2 separate regions of the Homo sapiens genome follow, and region 2 is linked to region 1. The links come from fine-mapping of genetic effects on gene expression. A gene starts in region 1. The other region holds a variant in brackets. All regions are shown on one strand. Distances are from middle to middle.

Evidence for each region. PIP is the estimated chance that this variant, and not a neighbour inherited with it, causes the effect.
Region 2: its variant is fine-mapped to the expression of RPL15 in whole blood (INTERVAL, PIP 0.97).

What each region holds. Positions count from the first base shown.
Region 1 is chr3:23,907,355-23,923,747 of GRCh38, reverse strand. It overlaps RPL15 (ribosomal protein L15), which reads right to left and starts at 6,616. Exons shown (of 4, transcript NM_002948.5): 1 at 6,575-6,616; 2 at 5,717-5,898; 3 at 5,172-5,308; 4 at 2,759-4,552. The coding sequence starts at 5,888. The coding sequence ends at 4,247. NKIRAS1 (NFKB inhibitor interacting Ras like 1) reads left to right here and starts at 6,758. Exons shown (of 5, transcript NM_020345.4): 1 at 6,758-6,964; 2 at 12,298-12,419; 3 at 12,827-12,937. The coding sequence starts at 12,844. RefSeq lists enhancers at 5,875-5,974, 5,904-7,103, 6,355-7,154.
Region 2 is chr3:23,946,435-23,956,124 of GRCh38, reverse strand. NR1D2 (nuclear receptor subfamily 1 group D member 2) reads right to left here. Exons shown (of 8, transcript NM_005126.5): 2 at 1,322-1,588; 3 at 1-88. It also overlaps a transcript of NKIRAS1 not described here. Among named protein-coding and RNA genes, the nearest start is that of NR1D2, 6.0 kb to the right of the region's middle. RefSeq lists a silencer at 7,093-7,387. The variant G/TG (reference allele first, on the strand shown) is at 3,400.

The DNA.
Region 1 (16,393 bases):
ATTTGGCAATATCTATAAAAAATTATATACATACAATTTTTAACTCTGCCATTCTACTTCTAAGAATTTATTCTACAGATGAATAAAGATGTATGCACACATTTTTCTTTTTGTAATAGCAACAGATTGGAAGAAATTTAAATGTCCATCAGGAGGGTCCACATCCAATGAATCATGGTACATCCACATGATGGGATACCATGCAGTTATACCAAAAGAATGAAGTTCCAGCCGGGCACGGTTGCTCATGCCTGTAATCCCACTACTTTGGGAGGCTGAGATGGGCGGATCACCTGAGGTCAGGAGTTCGAGACCAGCTTGGCCAAAATGGTGAAACCCCGTCTCTACTGAAAATACAAAAATAGCTGGATGTAGTGGCAGGCACCTGTAATCCTAGCTACTCGGAGGCTGAGGCAGGAGAATCGCTTGAACCTGGGAGGCAGAAGTTGCTGCGAGCCAAGATTGTGTTACTGTACTCCAACCTGGGCTATAAGAGCAAAACTACATCTCAAAAAAAAAAAAAAAAATGAAGTTCCTCATGAGCTGATAAAGAATAAGCTCTGAGATACATAACTAAACAAAAAAATCAACAATGTGTATCATATCCTACCACTTGGGGAAGAAAAGGAAAAAATACATATGTAGGCCAGGCACCGTGGCCCACATCTGTAATCCCAGCACTTTGGGAAGCAGAGACAGGAAGATTGCTTGAGCCCAGGACTTTGAGACCAGCCTGAACAACATGGTGAAACCCTGTCTCTACAAAAAATACAAAAATTAGCCTGGCATGGTGGTGTGCACCTGTGGTTCCAGCTACTCGACAGGCTGAGGTGGGAGGATTGCTTGAGCCAGGAGGTTGAGGCTACAGTAAGTTGTGAACGCGCCACTACACTCCAGCCTGGGCAACAGTGAGACCCTGTCTCAAAATAAAAAAATATTGTTAAACTGATCACCTTGCCTCCAGGGAGAGGAACTAGGAGGCAGAAGGGTTTGTACTGTAGAGCCTATACTTATCTTTTGAATTTTTAACGTTAATGTATTATCTATCAAAAACTTTAAGTTGGCCACGTGCAGTGGCTGACACCTGTAATCCCGGCACTTTGGGAGGCCAAGGCGGGAGGATCACCTGAGGTCAGGAGCTCGAGACCATCCTGGCCAACATGGTGAAACCGTCTCTACTAAAAATACAAAAATTAGCTGGGTGTGGTGGTGCGTGCCTGTAGTCCCAGCTACTCGGGAGGCTGAGGCAGGAGAATCGCTTGAACCCGGGTTGCAGTGAGCTGAGATCGTGCCACTGCACTCCAGCCTTGCGACACAGTGAGACTCCATCTCAAAAAAAACCAAAACAAAACAAATAAACTTTAAGTGTATAGGATTTGAATTCAGACTGTCACTGTATGACTTTGAGCAAGTTGCTTCATCTTTGTGTTTCCTCATTGGCAAAAAAGGATTAATACTAGTAACTGCACCTTTTGGGATTGTAAGAAACCAATTGTTATTTTTGAGACAAGTTCTGGCTCTATCACCCAAGATGGGAGTGCAGTGGTGTGATTTCGGAGACTACAGGCGTGCAACACCATGCCCAGCTGATTTGTTATTTTTTGTGAGATGGGCTCTCACCACGTTGCTCAGGCTGCTCTCTAACTCATGAGCTCAAGCCCACCTTGGTTACCGAAAGTGTTGGGATTGCAGGCGTGAGCCACCGCACCCAGCCAATTGTTGTTATTACTAAAGTAAATTTGGGCCCGGTGTGGTGGCTCATTCCTATAATTCCAGCACTTTGGGAGGCCAAGGCAGGATTGCTTGAGGCCAGTAGTTTGAGACCAACCTGGGCAACATAGTGAGATCCTGTCTGTACAAAAAATAAAAATTGGGCTGGGGGTGGTGGCTCACGCCTGTAATCCCAGCACTTTGGGAGGCCAAGGCAGGTGGATCACTTGAGGTCAGGAGTTCGAGACCAGCCTGGCCAACATAGTGAAACCCAGTCTCTACTAAAAATACAAAACTTAGCTGGGCATGGCAGTGTGCGCCTGTAGTCCTGGCTATTTGGGAGGCCGAGGCAGAAGAATTGCTCAAACCCGGGAGACAGAGGTTGCAGTGAGCCGTGATTGCCCCACTGCACTCCCACCTGAGTGAGAGTGAGACTCCATCTGGAAAAAAAAAAAAAAAAAAAAAAACTCAATAATCAATGTTGCTGTGTGAATTACATGCCAATATAGAAATAGTAAAGCAAATGGGAACAGCTTGTGGGGCGGTCAGGGTATAGCTAATAAAGTGACCCTTAATATTGGAGTAAAGCTTTCCCATCATAAAGGCATTAGGAAGTGTTTGGTGTATTTGAAGAACAAACAGCAAGGAGCCTGGGGTGTGGACTGCAGTAGGACATGAGGTCACACATAAAGTGGGAAGATCATGAAAGCTATCATGAGGACTTTTGATTTTTTTGCACGGGAGTGCCATGATCAATTTAATAGGATCCCTTGGACTACTGTGTGGAGATAAAACTGTTGGGTAGCAAGGACAGGAACAAGGTTTTCTTGTAGAGACAATGCTGACCTTTGGCCCGAACCCTTTCTCTCCTTCCCAAATTAGTCATGTTTAAGGATTTTTTTTGTTTTTAGGTCTCACTATGCTGCCCAGGCTGGCCTCAACAAATCCTCCAGCTTGTCTCCCAAAGTGCCAGGATTACAGGCCTGAGCCACCACACCCAGCTGAACAGTTTTAGATAAAAACCTAATTCATGCAATGATCAAAGAACTGAGAGAATAAGTACATTTTATGCTATCTCAAATTATATTATTTCTATAATCACATTTTGATGCCTTTTTGCTGGTTAGGGCATTTGGTTTGCTTTAAAGTACATTAGCACTGTAAGATGACAAAAAATAACAGAAGGTCCATTTGTTTTAGTTTAATAGACATTTATTCCTTCAGTTGAACAACCTCTACACAATTAAAATGTATGACTTAAGATCTTTTCTTTTTTTGTGAAGAAATTTAGGTCTCAAGAACTTTTATGAACTTGCTATGAGTACTTCCTGGAAATCAATTAACTGAGTCTTTTGAAACCCCTAGAGAAGATAGGAGAAAATTGGTTCAGAACGAGCATTTAAATTAAGTCAGCAAAGTCAGAATTTAAAATTGGGCAATTCCTTGTCTACATTTTCTTTACACTCAAATTGACCCTGGACAACAGTAGTCTAGTCTCCTGGAAGACATGGTGCAAACAGAAATGCAATGTGGTGGTATACTCATAGTCAAAGTGGGTGCACAAGTGATGGTCCAACTTTGTGGAATGGTAAGGATTTTTAGGGTTGTTTGGCCAGAACAAGAGAAATAACTGCAGAAAACACATATGGTTGGAAACCATGCGCTTGTGACTTTTTCTGTAGCCTATGGGAGTGGACAGAGTGGGTAACCCAAGATGTTTTTAAGACTGACTGGACTAAGAATGACGTACTTATAGCCAACTACTTTCCCCCTAATGTGACTGAAGGGATTCATAATGATCACAATTAGCATTACGGTTAAGTATTTTAGGGTTGACGTCTAAGCTCACACTTGAAAGGTATTTATCTAATGGCCACTGGCTCACCAGCTTCCCACCCTAGCATTCATTGCTAGCTTACCAATCTTAAGGCTAATAATTTTATCGCACATTCAACTTCAAAACACACCAGTGTTTACCATTACCACTAATCACTGAATGCCATGAAGCCATGGCACTGAACCAGGAGCTTTCACCTTTTATGTGAATTTAAAATGGTACTGTGGAGGCTGAGGCAATTTTCTTCAGGCTAACCCAGATTTTCTAAAGCCCAACTTAAAAAGTCTACACCTGCCAAACTAAAAAAAACGCAGCCACTTGAAAATAAACCAGCAGAGCATTGCCATCACTCCGATAAAGCTGCAGGTTTCATCACATGCACCAGACAAATCTACAGGGCTAGTTTCAGTTCTCTCCTTTTAAAGAATTTATTAAGCCTGTTATACCACACAGTATGTTTTATACACTGACATACAACTCCCTAATAAGATAAAGCAAAGACAAAAAAGTTTATCTTATTAGAAACAAGATACACCACCACTTATTGTCTTCAAACATTATTGCACTTTAACTTTCTTAATTTGACAAAGCATTCAAGAAACATCTGCAGACTAGTTTTAACAGACAAATAACACCTGTAAGCAGACATGACTGTCCTAAATTGTTTATTAAGTATGAATTTTACAAACTTTACTTATATTAGCGGTAACGGTGGAGCTGGAGAGTATTGCGCCTTCTCCAAGCTGCCCGGCGAGAGCCACCAATAGTGTGGTGGAACTTGTGGCCCTTTCCAAGGCCACGGCTCTTTCGGCCTGCAGATGTCAGCCCACGCATCTCCCTGTGCTTGTGGACTGGTTTGGTGATCCACTGGGTGTCAGGATTTCTTCTGATAGCTTTATGGAATGGATCAATGAGGATAACCTCAAAAAATTTGTATGTGGAATCTTCACCAACCCAGTAAGAATTCAGGACTCTCAGAGCCCCACAGTGGCGTCCAGCTCGCTCCTAGAATAGGAAAAAAGGCCCAAGGTCAATCTCCCACATTGCCTATAGCAGCAAGTCAGAAAGAATTTTAATTCTCAACTCTAGTTCACCACCAGACAAGAGTCTTTTACTACTCAAGTTATTTACTAAGCATTTCTCCCTAGACTATCACAAGTGTAATGAGATAATGTAGACTTGCTAAAACAACACACATAGACTGAAACACATCATTCCCTCTTAATACTCCATTCCTGACTAGGGCAGGAATATGTTAATATCTGGGTAACAAAATTTAGGGTTTGGGGACCTTATCTTTTTCCATACAACTGAGAGCTCAGCAACGTTTAGCTTTAAAAATATTTAGTATATATTTTAGGCTGTGCAGGCCACATTTGGTCTCTTCTGCATATTCTTGCCGCTTTAAAGCTTAGGTTCCACAAGTACTTCCAGTATATACACACGCATTTGTAACAAAGACAAGTCTTTCAAGCAATTACTCTTCACCAAGATTAGTAAAAATCACAAACCCTGTTTTATATACGAGACAGCTCACCTAAGTACAATCAGAAAAGTTGCTTAATCTCTCTCTCCCACCATCCCCAGGCAGTATTCAATATAACTGCTACTCAAAACCATTTACCTCTGCAACGGACTGAAGGCTTCGAGCAAACTTTAGCTGGTTAACACCATGATGGACAGGCTTGCCGTAAGTTGCACCCTTAGGAACTGGGCGTTTTCGGCCACCACGGCGAACACGAATCCTATATATAACGTAACCTACACACAAACACACACGAAATTAGTGATTTTATAGGAAGCCGTAAGGCTTAAGACTCAATGGCTTGTCACTAATACTCCACCAAAAATACTTCAACAGTAAGTTAATGCTATCTAATAGAAAAAAATAAAACACATCCCAGTCTTTTTCAATGCACCTTAGGCTACTCACACAGGGAGGCACACTGTTTATTTTGCTTTAGTCTGAACTCATTCAGATTTGTAACCTTTGACACACTTGCCACTTTAGACAACAGTGCATACAGTAACTGACCAGTGTTGCTAGCTTTTTTCTGCCAAAGCCCTATGCGAAGAAAGACACTGAGGCAGCAGTGTCTTCCTAACAGCTGGTTTCCAACTTTTCTCGAATATAATTTTATCCAAGCATCCACGCAGTCGATCACGTACCTTGCTTGGCCTTGTAGCCCAGTCGGCGCGCTTTATCAGGCCGGGTGGGGCGGGGAGCCCTGTGGAGAGCAGAGAGCTGGCGGTACTGCCAGCAGCGGACCCTCAGAAGAAAGCGCATGACATCAGACTGCTTCTTTCTCCATAGCTCCTGGATGTACTTGTATGCACCCATCTTGGCTTACCTGTGAAATCAAACTGTGTATTAAATATCATCCGCTTTAAGTACAATAAGACGACTGTATCCGTCCATCTTAGTTCCCCAACAAAAACAAGGAAACCGCCGGGAATGAAAATGGCTCTGCACCAACTGCCGGGGACAGCTAGCCCAACCCCCACCACTGCGCCCACGGAGCCGCGTTCAGTCACTTCCGCAACCCCAGCACAGAGCGGTGCTCGGCACGTTTTGGTGGGGCGAATTAACAGAACCAGAACTGAGCACCAAGGGGGCGGGTGGCTGCGGCAGGCGGCGTCCCCAAGGAGGACCTGAAAGGAGATGCCGCTGACATCACAGGACAAGGTACTGCTGCGGCCACCGAGGATTAACTCTCGAGGAAAATGCATCTACCCCACCCAACCAGCAGCCTCACTTTAGGCTGCCTTGTCCCGGGCGCCCCATTCGTCAGCCCCACGCCTCCTCCAGGATCCGGGCCCAGCTCGAATTCGCGCCGCCATCACATCTTCGCTCAACCCGCCCCGGGGGCCGCCTCTCCACCCCTTTGCTGTCCCGCATCCTGACCAAACTCTGGCCGCACAGGAGGGAGACCTATCTCCGAGGACGCAGGGTCCCCGGACCTGGATGGCTGAAGAGGAAGACGATCAAAGGCGGATGGAAGAGCAAAGATCCTCAACGCAGCCTACCTGATGGCTGCCGCCAGACGGAAAGGAAAGAGCTGTACTCCCACAATGCCTTTTGGGCTCCTCCCCCACCTCAGCCACCCTCTTTCCGGTGGAAAGCTGCGGCCTCCCAGAGCGTCATGGGACATGTAGTTCCGGCATCGCGCCTGGTGGCGGAGTTCTGCCGAGTGGGGCGCCGCGGCCGCTATTGTCCCGCCCCCTGCTCCGCAAGATTCGAGCCTGAGCGGCCTGGGCGTCTCGAGAGGTGAGAGAGTTGGCGGCGAGGTCTCGGCGGCTAAGCGAGCGTCGGCGACTGTCTCTCCGCGAGAGGAGGCAAGTTGGGGTCCAGGCTCCAAAGCCGGTGGCCGCGTACCGCGGTGGAGCCGCTGTCTTTGAGGTCTGAGGAGAGAACAGGTTTGTTTCACGCACCGCGGGCTCTCCCCCTGCGGAGTCTCTGCGTCTCCGCGTCTCCGCGCTGCGCTGTCCCTCTCTGGCCACCGCACGACGGGCGCAGAAATCTGGGCCCCAGAGCTGCGCTGAGAGATCCCCCGACGCTTCCCCAGCCTCCCAGGGAGGCCTTCGCGGAGTCGGGGCGTCGCGGGTCGGGGCGCTCGCTGTGTCCCTTCAGCTCCAGACTGCGTGAAGCTCCTCCAGCAGGCCCCAGCGCCCAGGGATTTTGTCCTAAAAAAGGGTCATGGAGTGGGTGGATTGCGGGCGGCCCGGCGCTTTTTCTGCATACGGATTTCGTCCCAAATTTGCTAACATGAGAACCACAGTTTTTCAGAAGAGCAGAATGTTTATTTGCCAAGACCTGTTTGGCAGGTGTGAATGTTTTAGAGAAGAAATGCCGAGAAAATGCTGGCATTTTGCGTTGCGGGTTTTTTTTTAAATTGAGAAATAGGTTACTGGCTTACTTTGTTTCTCCAGAATATTTTCACTTGGCTTTAATTTAAGTCATGTGGCTTTAATTTCCTTCCAGATTATGCGTTCAGATGTGGCAAAGGCTTAAGAGAATCATTATCTCTTAATCGTAGCGGTTTTGATTATCTTTTTTCCCACATCATATTTTTCTTTCTTTCTTTTTAAATCACAGCTTTACGTTTTTAAGAGTCTCTATCTGGTTCATTGATTGATTCAACAAATATTTATTAAGTGTCTAATATGTGCCAGGCATAGTTGCTGGGGATGCAGCAGGAAACAACGCAGAATTTTTGGCCTTCTTGGAAATGGGCAGTAAGCAGAAGTAAGCTGTGTTTTGGGTTTGGTGGTAAATGCTAAGGAAAAAAGATAAGGGGAGGGAAGTGATGAGGGAGTGTTAGCGGCTGAGGGTTGCAATTTGGAATGGAGTGTCCAGGTTAAGTCTTTGAGAGAAGGTAACATTTAAGAAAGGACTTCAAGGATAGGAGTCTGGGAGTAAGAGTAGGGGTCTGATTCAGGCAGAGGGAGAAGAGCCATGACTGGAGCATGCAAGATTAATAGAGGAACAGCAGGGAAGCAGTGTGGCTGAAATTCACAGTAGGGGAAAGTGGGAAATGACGTCGGAGAGGTGAAGGTTCTCACATGGACTTTGGATTTCATTGGCAGATTTTGAACAGAAGGATGACTTCATATGGCGTACATTTTAAAAAGATAACTCGGATTGCTCCTTTTGAGGCTAAAAGGAGAGAAAAAATGGAAGCAGAGAGACTGCTTAGGAAATTGTGTTAGTCTTCCATTGCTCCTGTAACAAATTTCAGCAACTTTGTTGGTTAATAATACAAATTTACCGTCTTTTAGTTTGTACATCAGACTAGGTCTGTAAATCTGTAAATATCACCAAGCTAAAACCAAAGTCAGTAGGGCTGTGTTCCTTCTGGAGGTACTAGGGGAGAGTACATTTATTTCCTTGGCTTTTCCACCTTATGAAGCCTGCCTGAATTCCTTGGCTCCTGACTGCTTCCTTCATCTTCACAGCCAGCAAAGGAGCATCTTCCAATTACACCTTCTGTCCTCTCCAGCACTCCTGTGTGTCTCTTATAAAGACACTTGTGATTACACTGGGCCCACCTAGATAATTCAGGATAATATCTTCGTATGGAAGTTCTTAATTTAATCACCCCCGCAAAATTCTTGTATGAGTATGTAAAGTAAACATATTCACAGGTTTGGGGGATTACGATATCTTTGAGAGACCAGGTGAGAGAACATGGTGCCTCACCCAGACCACTTCAGTAGTGATGAAAATGGTAAGTAGTGCAGCCCTGTATGTATTTCAAAGGTGAGGATGACTAAAAAGTTGAATGTGCTACTGTAGGTACGCTGCCTATGGGCGTAGTCCTGCTCCTAAAGGAGCAGTAAAAATAAAATTTAAAAAGTTGGATGAATCATTTGGAAAAACAATTCTAGTAGTGTGAATAATCACTGCTAATTTATCAATCACATTTGCAGTTTTGTTTCTCAATTTGTAGTTTCTCAGTTAACAGTTTTACAAGATTTGGATTTGTGTTTCCAGTTGATTTTGAGATTCCTGAGGACAAGGGATGATTTCTGTTTTTGCCCCCTAGTTTGTCCCTGATGGCTGGCATGATGGCAGGCCCTCAGTAAATGTTTGGTAAATGAATAAAAGAATGGTAAGCTAGAATCTGCTTTATTACATTTTATTTTGTGCAATACTGTGTGCAAAACCTGTTGAATATATTTTTATGTATGTAAATATATTCATATATGGATAAGTGAAAGTATTCCACACTATACATAATGTTGACATAAGTAAATACACAGTGTAGGTGGTTTCCCCACATGACAGTATTTTTAGAGATTTATAACATCTCTCCTATGATGTTAACAGTGTTTTGGTATTGTTTTTCTGGTTGCGTCAGAAAGTTGTGTTTTACTTATAAAAATAGAATGGCCCACTTACATAGAAGAACAGAAGCAATAACGGTTTTGGGGAGCTGTTTCTGATGGCTCTTCAAAGAAAATGTTGACAAAGCATTTCACAGGAATGGACCAGGTCATATATTTACTCTCTGTTTTTTTTTTTTTTTAGCCTCAAGTTGGAGAGAGGAGGTTGTATTTATTCTCTAGCAATGTTATTGATTAGCCTGGAAAGTAAAGCAATAAGTATTTAAGACTGCCCTGAATCTTGCCTATTAAGCACGTTCTCTTAGTAATTTACATCAGGTGAGGTTTAATAGGTCACAGATTGAATTTTATTGCCCAGTTTCTTAGGGTAGGGATGTGACAAGTAGCTGTAACTACTGCTTTTTGTGTTCACCTCAGTGTTGATGTATTCTCTGGATAAGCAACTTCTAATATCATGGCATCACAGTGTTGAAAGGAACCTAAAGGTGACCCATGTACTACAGAGCCTTTCAAATTCTTGAAACCTAGATTTAAGTAAGAGGCTTGGTTACCCCAGGATCGGTTCATGTGATTCAGTGCCCATTCAGGGTACTGCAGATGACCACCTTTGTATATTTCGCAGGAACTGGTGTACATTTATTGTGTTTGGGAATTATTAAATAATTATAAGTGCTTTAAGAACCAAACTTTTAGTAGTTTTTATTTGTAAATCTGAAAATATCTAAGCATGAGAACCACTTATTTGTAATGTGAGTTCCTGCCATAGCGATCATTTATAGAAAATAAAGTATTTTTGTGTATGTGTTATTTATTCAAAATGTTAATTATTTTTTAAAGAATTCTTAACTTTGTAATTGATGGTAGCAAGGCACTCATCTGCTTTATGTAGTGGTATTGTTTCCTATTTGGAAGGCAACCAGGAACCTAGAATATTTCAGCCTGCTTTGATTAATCACACTTATCTTTTCATCTTTGTTTTCTTTTTGATAGTGTAAAATATTTAATGAGGTCTGTTCTGTCATCTCTTTGCTTTCCTTCCAAAAAATGCTTAAAATTCTTAGCTAGTGTTTTGAGCTACTTTTATTCAGTTACTTTTACCGTTTGCCCATGATGAAGACTTCTTTGGTAATATCAAAAGGAACTCCCCAATTTATTAATATATACATACAATACAAAACAATGTATAATTTTTAGCAAACGTTGTCTGTTAATCCTATTATCCTGATAATTATATTATCCTGATAATCATATTATCAATGAGTGATCAAAGTACATTTGTAGTGTATTACTTTTTTTTTTTTTTTTTTTTTTTTGAGACGGAGTCTCACTCTGTCACCCAGGCTGGAGTGCAGTGGCATGATCTCGGCTCACTGCAAGCCCCACCTAATTTTTTGTATTTTTAGTAGAGACGGTTTCACCATGTTAGCCAGGATGGTCTCAATCTCCTGACCTCGTGATCCGCCCACCTTGGCCTCCCAAAGTGCTGGGATTACAGGCATGAGCCACCGCGCCCGACGTATGTGGCATATTTTCTTAATCCAGTCTATCATTGATGGACATTTGGGTTGGTTCCAAGTCTTTGCTATTGTGAATAGTGCCCCATTAAACATACGTGTGCATGTGTCCTTATAGCAGCATGATTTATAATCCTTTGGGTATATACCCAGTAATGGGATTACTGGGTCAAATGGTATTTCTAGTTCTAGATCTTTGAGAAATCGCCACACTGTCTTCCACAATGGCTGAGCTAGTTTGCAGTCCCACCAACAGTGTAAAAGTGTTCCTATTTCTCCACATCCTCTCCAGCACCTGTTGTTTCCTGACTTTTTAATGATAACCATTCTAATTGGCGTGAGATGGTATCTCATTGTGGTTTTGATTTGCATTTCTCTGATGGCCAGTGATGATGAGCATTTTTTCATGTGTCTGTTGGCTGCATAAATGTCTTCTTTTGAGAAGTGTCTGTTCATATCCTTCGCCCACTTTTTGATGGGGTTGTTTGTTTTTTTCTTATAAATTTTTTTAAGTTCTTTGTGGATTCTGGATATTAGCCCTTTGTCAGATGGGTAGATTGCAAAAATCTCCCATTCTGTAGGTTGCCTGTTGACTCTGATGGTAGTTTCTTTTGCTGTGCAGAAGCTCTTTAGTTTAATTAGATCCCATTCGTCTATTTTGGCTTTTGTTGCCATTGCTTTTGGTGTTTTAGTCATGAAGTCCTGTGCATGGGCAATTTTTCTAGAGTTGTCTATTCTTCCTCAAAAAGAAATATGATTAAGAAAGCCCACGTGACAGCCAGGCGCAGTAGCTCACGCCTGTAATCGTAGCACTTTGGGAGGCCAAGGCAGGCGGATCACTTGAGGTCAGGAGTTTGAGACCATCCTGGCCAACATAGTGAAACCCCGTCTCTACTAAAAATACAAAAATTTCACCGGGCATGGTGGCAGGCACCTGTAATCCCAGCTACTTGGGAGATTGAGGCAGGAGAATCGCTTGCCCTTGGGAAGCGGAGGTTGCAGTGAACCGAAATCTCATCACTGCACTCCAGCCTGAGTGACAGAGCTAGACCCTGTCTCAAAAAAAAAAAAAAAGCCCACGTGACTACCAAAATCCAGTTTCTTCCCTTCTCGAGAAAAGACTGACATAAACTTTCATGTTTCTTTGAAAAATCATGTCCATTTTCTAAAAACTTTATCCTCATGCCTCCTTAAATTTTTACTTAAATGTTTATTTTTCCAGGTAAATATTGATGAGTAGGCAGTCTCTTTCAAGGATTTAAGAGTCTGTTGGATTGCTATAGACTTAATCAGTATTGAAATATTCTTCATATAAAATGTATTTATTCTTTTTGAAAACAAAGATGTATTCATACCTATCCATGTGTTTTTTTGTTTGTTTGTTTTCAGACAGAGTCTAGCTCTTTCACCCAGGCTGGAGTGAAGTGGTGCAATCTCAGCTCAGTGCAACCTCCGCCCCCTGGGTTCAAGTGATTCTCCTGCCTCAGCCTCCCCAGTAGCTGGGATTACAGGTGAGTGCCACCACGCCTGGCTAATTTTTGTATTTTTAGTAGAGATGGGGTTTCACCATGTTGGCCAGGCTGGTGCCGAACTCTTGACCTCAGGTGATCCACCCGCCTTGGACTCCCAAAGTGGTAGGATTGCAGGCATGAGCCACTGTGCCTGGCCTGTATTCTTATATTTATCTACATTGTCTCCGTGAGATATATAAGAAACTGATAATGCTTATTGCTCTAAGGGAGGAAATGGGAGACTGGGGAATGGGGTTTGGAAGGCTATACCTTATTCTATATCTCCTTTTCTGTATTTGAAAATTTCCCCTGTGCATGTGTTACATATTAAATTGAAATACTGAAAGAAAAAGAAATGGTTAATTTCAACAGTATACAATTTAAAAGACCTGTTATTCTCTCCACAGTGATATCCTGAGAGAAGATGGGAAAGGGCTGCAAGGTTGTGGTTTGTGGATTGTTATCTGTGGGGAAAACTGCAATTTTGGAGCAGCTCCTTTATGGAAATCATACTATTGGTAAGATTGTTTTTCTCTAGTTTGTCTCTAGGTTCTGGGAGCTATCAGGGGTCTTTTGTTGGTCATGCTAAACTAAAGGTGGTTGATGGTACATAAAGGGGAGGTATAATCCAGAGGGACCAAAAGAGATTAAGAGGTAAGAAAAGAGGAGGGAAAAAAGTCTTAGTGTTATTGAAATTCAAGAGTGCCTGCTGTAAGTTATCACAGGTAAGGAAAGAAATGGCCAATATAGATAGATCAATATGGATATATATTCCTTTGTATATATGTGGTTTTCCGTGTATTTACATAATGAATGGTGTAAATTCATTACATTACAAATCATAGAATCACTGATTTAAGAAAACATAACTTTCCAGTGGGCATGGTGGCTCAGGCCTGTAATTCCAGCACTTTGGGAGGCCGAGGCAGGCGGATCACCTGATGTCAGGAGTTCAAGACCAGCCTGGCCAACATGGTGAAACCTGTCTCTACTAAAAATACAACATTAGCCAGGCATAGTAGCAGGTGGCTGTAATCCTGCTACTTGAGGGGGTGAGGCAGGAGAATCTCTTGAACCTGGGAGGCTGAGGTTGCAGTGAGCCAAGATGGTGTTACTACACTCCAGCCTGGGCTACAGAGCGAGACTCTGTCTCAAAAAAAAAAAAAAAAAAAGGCCGAGCGCAGTGGCTCACACCAGTAATCCAAACGCTTTGGGAGGCCGAGGCAGGCAGATCATGAGGTCAAGAGATCAAGACCATCCTGGACAACATGGTGAAACCCCGTCTCTACTAAAAATACAAAAATTAGCTGGGTGTGGCGGTGCACGCCTGTAGTCGCAGCTACTCAGGAGGTTGAGGTAGGAGAATCGCTTGAATGTGACAGGCAGAGGTTGCAGCGAGCTGAGATTGCACCACTGCACTCCAGCCTGGCGACAGAGCGAGACTCCATCTCAAAAAAAAAAAAACAAAAAAAAACAAAAACAACTTTGCAGAGCTGCTGTATGTAGATTTTTAAAAATGGAAGAAACAGTTGTTTGGTGAGTATGACTTAATTTTGTGAATTGGGCTACCTCATTCATTTATTCATTCGCTGAGTCAAATAATTATTTATTAATTGGTATATGATACGTGTAATCAGGCCTTGGGTTACAGAGGTGAAGATAGCATCTCTGGAGGTCATGGCTTAGTAAGGAAGATAGATATCACAGGTTAGAATGAAATGACGTTTGTGTTAGATAAGTAAACAGAGATCATCAAAGCATTTTTTTCTGGCAAGTAACTTAAAGCACATTTCTGTTTTTCTGAGATGGAGTCTCACCCTGTCTCCCAGGCTTGAGTGCAGTGGTGCAATCTCGGCTCACTGCAACTTCCGCCTCCCAGGTTCAGCCAATTCTCCTTTCTCAGCCTCCTGAGTAACTGGGACTATGGGTGCGTGCTACCACGTCTGGCTAATTTTTGTATTTTTATTTTAGTAGAGACGGGGTTTCACCACGTTGGCCAGGCTGGTCTCGAACTCCTGACCTCAAGTGATCCCCCCGCCTCGGCCTCCCAAAGTGCTGGGATTACAGGCGTGAGCCACTGCGCCTGGCCCACATTTCTGTTTTTCATTAACCATTTCTATGTGCTCTGCTTCTCTTCTAGCTTTCTAAAATAATGTTTAACAATTGTGGTTAAATTCATATTTAGTGTTTATTATAATACCTATGTCAGTAGTTCTCAAATTTTTTGGTTTCAGAATCCTTTTGCCCTGTGAAAACTTACTGAGGACCCCAAACAACTTCTGTTTATGTGGGCTGTATCTTCCAACATTTACTGTATTAGAAATTAAAACCGTGGCCAGGCGTGATGGCTCACAGCTTGGTAATCTCAGCACTTTGGGAGGCCAAGGTGGGAAGATCAGCTGGGCTCAGGAGTTTGAGACTAGCCTGAGACCTCATCTCCACTAAAAACAAAACAAAATGAAAAAAAGAAAAAAAAAAAAAAGAAAGAAAGAAATTATCCAGGTGGGCATGGTGGCATGTGCCTGTGGTTCCAGTTACTTGAGATGCTGGGGTGGGAGAATCACATGGGAGGTTGAGGCTGCAGTGAGCCATGATCACACCAGTATGTTCCAACTTAGGAGACCCTGTCTGAAAAAAGAAAAAAAGAAAAGGAAAATGGAGACATTTGTAAACTACTTATTTTTTCTAAATGACACTAATAAACTCATTATATCCTAAAATAACTTTATGAAAAAAATTATATTTTCAAAATAGAAAGGTGGCATTGATTTACTTTTTAGAAAATCTTTTCTGATGTCCAGCTTAATAGAAGGCAATTATCATATCTATTAACACTTGCCTTTGTAATCTGCTGTGATGAGGTGTTTCAGTTGAAATATATGAAGAAAATCCAGCCGCACACAGATATGTAGTTGGAAAAGGTAGGAGGAATACTTTAATAGCCTTTTCAGGTAATTATGGGTATTTTTCTTTGGTATTTCACTAAAACTTAACAAGTGATGGTTACTTAAAGGTTATTGCAGTGTAGAATCTGAAATCATATTCGTGAACTTTTTTACTCTGCTAAATTAAAATCTCATTGATTGATCCTGCATTTTAAATGGATCTTTTTACCCAAGCAGAGTTTTTTAGCATCGTGAATTGGTCATTTTGGAAATTTTGGTTCGCTAAGGAAGTCTTCCATATCACTTTTGTTAATATCTGATGAAATACCAATTTCATCAGTATTGGGAATCTGTCAAGTTCATGATGATGGATACAATTCTGATTTTTGCCTGAAAGCTCAAATTTTATTGACAACAAATACTGTTACCATAGTTACTTTCCTTGAAATGATAGGCTTCCTTTATTACTTTTTGAGAAAATGTTTGTCAAATATTGTAAATACATAGTTTTTCTGTCATTTCTTCTTTTTAAAAATGATGGCTAGTTCAGCTTGCAATTTAAAACACACAAGAGATTTTCCTCAAGACAGTTACCATAATTGCATGCAGAAATGCTTTATGTATAGTTTCCATTTAATTCCATAGAATATTGAAAAGATATATACTCAAGGCTTGAGATTTAATAAAATTAGTCATTTTTATTGCTTCATTAAGGACATTCTTAAGTAAAACTGGCTTTTTAATTTTTTAACTGCAAGCACAGGATGGTGAAGAGAGGATCTAATGGCAACTATACGTTTAGTGCCACTGACTCGATTTGCACTAAGGTACCGGCAGTTTTACCCACCACTGCTTTTGCAACATCAGTACAAATATCAACACAGTGGAAAATGCAAATGGCTTTGGTAGTAGTATGAATATAGTTTTGCCCATGTGGGTCCCCTGAAAGGAGACCTCATGAGATCTGCAGACCACAGTTGGAGAGCTGCTGGCATATATAAATACAGTACAATTGACCCTTCAACAGTGCACGGGTTAGGGGTGCCAACACCGCCCCCCCATCAGTTGACAACCAAATTTTTGTCCCCC
Region 2 (9,690 bases), 36 kb before region 1:
TTACAGCCTTCGCAAGCATGAACTCCATAGTGGAATCCTGACGCCACATCCCCACAGACTTTACACAGTAGAACCATGCCACTAAATTCTAGGACACAAAAGGACACGAAGTAAAAAGTAGGAGGAAACACCGAGTCTGTTTTCTTTCCAATTAGATATTTTATTTCATTCAACGTGTAAGAGCTTTTAGAAGATACACATCTACTTTCATAATGTAAAAGAAAAATATTTTCAAATCAAAAGTAATCACAATCATAATTTTCTTACGGTGTTTTTTTTTTGTTTTGCTTTGTTTTGTTTTAAAGATAGAGTCTCCCTCTGTCGCCCAGGCTGGAACGCAGTGGCGTGATCTCAGCTCATTGCAACCTCCACACTTCCCAGGTTCATGTGATTCTCATGCCTCAGCCTCCCAAGTAGCTGGGACTACTACAGGCATGCACCACCACACCCAGCTAATTTTTGTATTTTTAGTAGAGATGGGGTTTTGCCATGTTGCCCAGGCTGGTCTTGAACTCCTGGACTCCGCCCCACTCAGCCTCCAAAAATATTGGGATTACAGGTGTGAGCCACCACACCCAGCCATAATTTTCTTTTAAATACAACTTATGGCACTGACAAAAATACCTCGCTGACCCGGATTTTTCCTTTCCTGATTTTAGAATTACACTGAAATTTTGTAAATTTATTTTTTTTCCAGACCTGTCAGCAGGAAATAAGAAATTTTGTAAATTTAGAGTTACTTTATACCAGATATGCAACCAGAACTAAGAAAACAATTCTCTGGATAACAATTAAGAATTCAGACAGAGAAGTCAATCAATAAAAGGTGGAAAGGGATATCTCTCCACAGGCAGCTGTGTCAATTTACTTCACCTACAGAGGCCAGATAGGTCCAAATCCCCCTACTCATTTGGTTATCCCAATCCAACATTTCCTCATCCCAAATATTCCCAAATCCAGTTTCACTAACGTAACCCCTTCCCACAATGAGCAAGTACTCTGTTCTAGAAACAAGACTTAGTTCTAGTAGTTCAGAAGAAAAGTAACTGTGAAATGTAGTAAAAGAGGGTACCCTAGAGGGACCAGGGTCAGGCAGAGTACATAATCACATGTCTTGCTCTGAGGCAAGAATTAATGACAGCCCCTAGGTTATAACTTCTATCATCATCACTGATTTCTTCCCTAACTACTGATGTATGATTACCCAGCAAGGAGTGAAAACTGTACCCAGAAACATAATGGCCACCTAAATGAAAAGCTGATAAAATAAGCCCCATTTGCAATTAATGGCAGCAATCTTTAGAAAACCAAAGTAACTTACTTGTCACACCACTATGACTTTTTGTCATCCCAGGTGCACTCGATTTGCTTGTTTTCATAGAACAATCTATTCGATCATTCTTCAAGATGCCTTCAATATTGGCGAGATCACCATTCTTGGGATTACCATTGGTATCAGAATTAGAGCTATTTGGAGAAGATGGAACAGAAGAGGAGGAGGACTGGAAACTATTCTCAGAACCCTCACTGTGACAAGAGGCAGGGCTTGAGGCTGAGCTGGAAGAACTGATATAGGCAATCACACCTCCTAGAAAATAGGAGGAAAATCACATAATTAGATACAAGATAATACGTATTTTTTATTTTTGCAAATCTCAACAGTAAAGCCATTAACTTTAGAAACAGGATACTGATATGAAATGTTTGCTTACACCAAAAGCAAAAAATAAAGTATTTCCTTATTTCCCATTATTCGTCCTGCTTCCGCAAAGTTCAAAGCACATGTAACTCCCACTGATTTAAAAAGGGAGATAGGCCCGGCACACTGGCTCATGCCTGTAATCATAGTACTTTGGGGGCTGAGGTGGGAGGATTGTCGCTTGAGCCTAGGAATTTGAGACCAGCCTGGGCAACATAAGGTAATGCTGTTTCTACAAAAAAATTTAAAAACTTGCTGCATGTGGTTTGCACCCAGCACCTCTAGTAGTGCCAGCTATTCAGAAGGCTAAAGCGAGAGGATCACTTGAGCCCAGGAGTTCAAGGCTGTAGTGAGCCATGATCATGCTACTGCACTCTAGCCTGGAGACAGAGCAGGACCCCATCTCAAAGAAAGAAAAAATTAAGTGAGAAGGATTTCACTGGCTTGGATATTCTGAGCACATGGAGATCCTCACACCTAAAGCTTTTCATTTTCCAGTATTTTCCTAAAAGGACTAAAAAATGCTCCTAAGTAACTTCATTGCTCAAACAAACTGGCCATGAAGAAATCTGGTTCTGGTCTCTTCTTTGCCTCCTGTTATAGTTATCTGACACAATCCTAGAAACAATGAATTTATCATTTGCCTCCCCCAACACTTGGCTAGAAGCACAGGTTAATCCAGAACAGATGTAACATTTAGAATGGTAGATAAGGTAAATTATCTCAAAACAGGGATCGTTTCACAGCCCTTGCTCCCACACCTTTCTGTTTTGGTGTTCCCAGAAGACATATGTGGCTATCCACTAACCAATCCCCAGTTCAATACTCTCCCTTCTCTACCCCATTCTGCCATTCATCTCTAAGCAGCTCTTAAGAAATCCAGACTCACTACTTGTTCTTCTGACTCGCTCTTTATAGGTGTTAAAGATGCTAGAAGAATGCATGCTATACCAGAATAACAGTAAGGCTGAAGCTAATTCCCTCTACACAGAGCTATTGTCAAAATGTGATTCCCAATTTTATATAACCGCCACAACCCTTCTGAAAACTGGCATTTTTTTTTTTTTTTTTTTTTTTTTTTTTGAGACAGAGTCTCACTCTGTCACCCAGGCCGGAGTGCAGTGTCACAATCTCGACTTACAGCAACCTCCACCTCCTGGGTCCAAGCAATTTTCCTGTCTCAGCCTCCTGAATAGCTGGGACTACAGTCACATGCCACCACCCCCAGCCAATTTTTGTATTTTTTTTTTTAGTAGAGATGGGGTTTCACCATGTTGGTCAGACTGGTCTCGAACTCCTGACCTCAGGTGATCCACCCACCTTGGCCTCCCAGTGCTGGGATTACAGGTGTGAGCCACCGCACCGGGCCTATCAATCATTTTTAAACAAAAATCCACAAAGCAAAATGCTGAGGCCAAAACAATCCCAAAAAGACAGACATTGCCGTCTTTAGGCAAGAAAAAAAAAAACAGGCAGAGAAATTTAGAGTCACTTTTAGTCTGTCATGTAGTAGATATCAGATGTGTTTTTAAGCACCAATTATATATATTGAGGCTAAGAAACAAACCCTCTGAGGAGGAAAGCACAACCACAACTCTCAAGGGGTTTGAGTGCAACCCAGAAGGGAAGATAAAACAGGTGCCTACTATGCCAAGAAACACACAATGTTTTTCATCAGACACGATTTTTTTTTTTTTTTT[G/TG]AGATGGAGTCTCACTCTGTTGTCCAGGCTGGAGTGCAGTGGCACAACCTCAGCTCACTGCAACCTCCGCCTCCCGGGTTCATGCGATTCTCCTCCTTCAGCCTCCTGAATAGCTGGGAATACAGGCGCCCGCCACCACGCCTGGTTAATTTTTGTTTTTGGTTTTTGTTTTTTTTTTAGTAGAGACAGGGTTTCACCATGTTGCCCAGGCTGGTCACGAACTTCCGACCTCAGATGATCCGCCCGCCTCCACCTCCCAAAGTGCTGAGATTACAGGTGTGAGCCACCGTGCCCAGCCCAGACACAAATTTAACATACATAAATTCAACTATATGCACTTGATTTTTAAGACAAAAATATCACTAACGTAGACAATTCCATCCACTGTTTTATTCATGAAGCCTATGCCTGGACTCGATCATGAGGTGAGAGGTGCAAATCTGCTCTTCCCAGTTAAACCCACTGTCCATATGCTCTCTTGCTATGTGCATCTCACCTTAATTAATCCTGCAATTAATATTTTTCCTGCAACATGGTCCCTAACTACAAACCAACCATCTCAAAGTGTGGGCCCTGGACTAGGGGCATCAGTATCACCCAGAATCTGTTAGAAATGCAAATTATCAGGCTCCGCTCCAGATCTACTGGATCAGAAACTTTAATAAGCCCTCTTGGTGATTCTGATGCACATCCAAGTTTGAAGAACACTGCCACAAGCCAACTACTTCATCTGTGCTCCCTGGAAGACAAAGTGACCAAGGTAGTTTTCATCTACCATTTATTCTAAAATCTAAAAACTCCAAAACTACAAACACAAGAAGAAAGATTCCCAACTTCGAGTTTATTTTCATCACCCAGAGAAATTATGTAAAATACATATCCTCAAAACTAGCTGGTGCTTTTTCAGAATACATGTTTCCAAGGCCCTGCCCAGACGAGAACACATCCTCAGGAATGTGCAATTTTAACAAGCTCTCCAAGCAATTATTTGCACATTGAAGTTTCAAAATGGCTACAATCAGTGAATTCAAACACAAATTGGCCCATAGTTTTAAAGATTGATGATTTCATCGATACAACCGCCAGAATATCATTAATACCCTGTGAATCCAAAGAGAAACCAACTTAACCTAGAAACCTAGCCAGTGTCATGTTACTGGATAAAACCATTGTGCTGTCTTTATATAACTTTAGAGATCTTAAGTCCACATTAAAAATTCCAGGTATTAGCACACTGCTACTTTTTCACAGATGTCTCCACTCACAATAGGACACTTTACAAAGACAAATATTCTTAGTCCTCAATGAAATTCCAAAGGAAGATCTCACAGCTATTTGTCTTCTCTAAAATAGTGTCTTAAGTACTAAATTCACATCTAACATCTCAGGAAAATAAAAGATAAGAAAGTGATGTTTTTCCTTGGAAGTAAGACTTTCCTAGGGCCCCCATTTTCAGTCATTTATGTTCACAAGATCTGCTGACTACCTTAGCTAAGAAATAAACTTTTAGAAATTAGAGCTGGCCGGGCACAGTGGCTCACGCCTGTAACCTCAGCACTTTGGGAGGCCGAGGCAGGCGGATCACCTGAGGTCGGGAGTCCAAGACCAGCCTGACCAACATGGAGAAACCCCATCTCTACTAAAAATACAAAATTAGCCAGGTGTGGTGGCGCATGCCTGTAATCCCAGCTCCTCAGGAGGCTGAGACAGGAGAATCACTTGAACCCGGGAGGCGGAGGTTGCGGTGAGCCGAGATGGCACCATTGCACTCCAGCCTGGGCAACAAGAGTGAAAACTCCATCTCAAAAAAAAAAAAAAAAAAAGAAAAAGAAAGAGAAAAGAAAAGAAATTAGAGCTATGCAGATGGCTTAAAAATTGGTTGCAAGCACTGACGGGGCAATGGACTGTATCGTAATTAATTAACCAAAAAACAATTTCCTTTGCAAAAGCTTCAATATCCAACCTAAAAGAAACTACTGGGCTATTATCAATCCAGCGAAGATCCAATTCCTGTCTTAAGAAAACAAGCATCTGTGCCAGGCACCAGAAAATCAAAGAAGACCCATCTAGAAGTAGCTGCATTCTCCTAGCAAGACCTTCAATATTGATTTAGTTGTCTTGGCATCTATTCTTGCTACTAGACACCCATCTATGAACCTGACTGATAGCAACCCAAATGGGTTAAATTTTAATTTCTTAGAAGAAAAGGAGTACATCTAGTAGTTCCTCAACCTAATGAAGAAAGGAAAGTGAAACTACAAGTCACCAAGTACCTACTGGATGTCAGGAATAAAATGACACAATTTCATCCTCACAAGAAGAACTCTGTGAATTAACTTTCATCAAATCATTTTTTAAACAAGGAGCTCAGAGAGGATAAGTCAGCCACTAAGTGGCAGGCCAAAGTTTAAAGTCAAGGTTGTCCAATTCCAGAGTACAAACTTATTTGGTGAGAAGACCTGAGCAAGCAAGTCACTTTCAATCTTTCTAAACCTGAGTGGTCTTCTATAAAATTGGAATATCTGCCACTTATTACAAGACTGAAATGAAATGGCATTCATAAGTGCTTTTTTCATACACTGTTTTTGATGATAAAGTAAGAAGAGTAAAAATCCCCAAACCAGCAAGTCCCAACACCTCCAAGAAACAGGCAGTATGTACCTCTTTGAAACCCTGAGCTAAAATTAGCTGAAGCAGTCTTCTCTATTTTCAGTTGAAAGGGACCCTGGACCTGGGCCAGGTTCCCAGGCTAGGGCTTACCCAGTGGTCAACTTCAGACAAGCCTTAAGTCAATATCCAATTTTGTACTGCTAGGAAGCACTGATATTCCTGCATATATTGGGGTCTTCTTACCCATTTTCTACACTTGTCCATCATCAAAACCCTCACACTTCCTCTGTCCACCATCCTGGAGATTATGTTTGACTTCAAGTCATGACTGTACTTTTCTGCCTTGTGACTTAGAACAAAACATTTTATCACCAAGAAGCTTTAGTTTCCCTCATTTTAAAAGTGTTATAAATAATTTCTACTCCAAGGGTGGTAGAGTAGATCTAACTGAAGCACTAAAATTCCAATTGTGTCCTAGGTGTCAGGGCTCCAGAGAACAGCATGGTCCTTTCCCTAAAATGCCTTATAGGCCAACTGGGGAAACACCTATGTTATTAGGAGCAATGTTTCACACACATGATTGTGACTGCTGAGGATCATACTAAAGAGGGCAGAAATCAATAGGGGCAAACACATCCAAGGTTGCAATATCTAAGTGGGGAATTGAAGACTGTTTAAATCATCAAAAGAGACATTTTTTAAATAGGGTGACACAAAAATAAATGGTGTGTTTTTTGTTGTTTTTTTTTTTCAGACGGAGTTTCGCTCTGTCACCCAGGATGGAGTGCAATGGTGTGATCTCGACTCACTGCCACCTCCGCCTCCTCGGTTCAAGCGATTCTCCTGCCTCAGTCTCCCAAGTAGCTGGGATTACAGGCACCCGCCACCACACCCGGCTAATTTTTGTATTTTTAGTAGAGACAGGGTTTCACATGTTAGCCAGGCTGGTCTCGAACTCCTGACCTCAGGTGATCTGCCCATCTCAGCCTCCCAGATTGCTAGGATTACAGGCATGAGCCACCATGCCCAGCCAAATCGGTCTTATTTTATAAAATAGACATTATTTTTATCTCCATGTAAATTACTGGAGAAGGGAGGTCAAGGTGTAATCTAATGTCTGGAAATAAGCCAGCATGACTAAAGAGAGGACTGATGAAACTGGGAGGCCCTGCAGATGACTATCCTTTTCCACTAGCTATAACCTACATATATCACTGCAAATTGAGTGGGGATCCATACACATGCAGTATCTCCTTCACCCTCAAGAAGACAGGACCACCAAGTTGCGTATAAATCTTCAAATATTATGCAGGCTAAAGTACATTATAGCACAGTAGTTAACAGTTTGTGTTCCCAAGTAAATTTTGTGGATTCAAATTCTGGCTCTACTACTTGCCTGAGTAAGTTATTTAGCTTCAATTTACTTAGCCCCGCATCATTAAGATGGTGGCAACGGCACCTTCCTTCATGGAATTAACATGAGGAACACATGTAAAAGGCCTGGCACAGAGTAAGAAGCTGATGATTATTTTTTTGTCATCATTATACTAGAAGAGTTCCAACAGAATGGTTCAAACCAAAGTAACTAATCCTCCCTACCCATTATTCACCTCATTTTTTAATGTGTGTTAAGGATCCAGTGGTTTCTTTGTAGGTTATTTCCACACTACCTTTTGAATCTCTTAACCCTACTGACCAGTAGAGCAACTTTTCTTCAATTCTTGCTTTTCCTTGCTCCAAGGAAAGATTTCTTTGCTCCACCTCTCCAATTTTTTTCCAAGTCTTTTACTCCACTGTTTTCACTTGTTACTCATGGGGCGAGGAGACATAGAGATGTCACGAAGGACAGTAAGATTACAGGATCACTGGTTGAATGTTTGTCAACTGATAACCAAACTAGAGGGAAGGGTAGAGGTGTGCCACACAGCGCTGAATCTGGCCCCACCTTGGTCAATGTTTACAAAAATTCGAAAGTTAAAAGGCTTTTTTTTTTTTTTGAGATGGGAGTCTCGCTCTTGTCGCCCAGGCTGGAGTGCAGTAGCGCGATGTCGGCTCACTGCAATCTTCACCTCCCAGGTTCAAGCTATTCTGCTGCTCAGCCTCATAAGTAGCTGGGATTACAGGAGCCCACCACCACGCCCGGCTAATTTTTGTCCTTTTAGTAGAGACGGGGTTTCACCATGTTGGCCAGGCTGGTCTCGAACTCCTTACCTCAGGGGATCCGCCCGGCTCAGCCTCCCAAAGTGCTGGGATTACAGGCGTGAGCCACTGTGCCCGGCCAGTTTAAGGCAATTCTTATTAGACCTCCTGCTTACTGATAGATAGCAGAAACTGTAAACATGGTGGGTAACAGCTTGTAACAGCTTTGAACTTAAGGCCAAATGAACGAGAGAAATTTTAAGAATGGTCATTGTAAATTCCTACACTTCAAGTCATGCAATTATCTGCACAATGAATGAAATCTAACTTCATAATAGTTCACGTGAAAGGTCCTAGTTGACTGCAAGGTTACTGTGAGTCAGCAAAGCAACATGCCAAAAATACTAAGCCTGCCAGGGAATTCATTTGCAACAGGATTCAAGACAAAGAGGGCAACTTGGAACTTGATAATCATCCAACCACTTCCACAAGAGCCTGTTCACTTCTGGGTGCTCCATCCCAAACGGCAACAAGGATGATGAGTGATCAGAAAAAACAATGCTGGGCAAGGACAAAGAGATGAGAACTGTAAATGGAAGAACTGAAGGGGGAAGGGGATGGTCAACATTCATCCGGAGGAATTTTTATAATGTGCCTTGCTCCACGAGGCAAGATTTAGATCAGCGAAGTATTGGAAGAGGGCTCAAACCAGAGAAAAACTTCCTAATTGAGCCAGCCCTTATGAGGTTACTAAAGCTATTAGAATTCATGCTAAAGGGTGGGTTAGAAGAGGTTCACCCTGATCACCTCTGAATTCTAACATGTAGAAGTTTAATTCTATGATAAACTCATAAAATTTTAAAAATACCCTCAAAGGCTAAGTAGGCCGATTAGGTAATCAAAACACAATTAGATCCAGATTTTTGTGAGACAACAGGTTAAAAAAAATAAGTAAATTCTAAAAATACGTAAATAAAATTAGAAAGTGACTTTATTTTTACTTTTGGTGAAAAGTTCACAATACATTTGTTATCGAGGCAAGATTCTTAGAGGCGCATTGCAACTCAAAAAATAAAACAAAAGCTGGCTGTTTCCATAACCTCACTCACTTCAGATCTACCTCATCATTTGGGGCAGACAAAAGGAGGGAAGGGCACCCTGTTGTTCCGTTGCAATGTAACAAAATGTGACAAGAAAAATATTTATAAAGCCAAATTCTCTTGATCAGATTCAGGAAAAGTCAGCGACCCACAGGTTAATTTTTTTTTAATTTAAATGAAGAATGTCCAGTCTTACATATGGTGTTGGAGTCACCTATGATCACCTGAGTCATCCTGACCATACGTGAGCTGCACGCTCAGCTGCGGGTGTGACCCGTTTACTGGAAAACTCCAGCCCGAAGGGATCTGGAAGCAGTTTTTAAGACTGTGTGTGTATGAGACAGGTCGCGTCCTAGAGCAAACGGTTTTTTTTGTAAACAGACGGCATCCTAACAGGGGCGGTGCTACCCAGTCTGCGGGGAGTCGCTCGGGATCGAAGCAC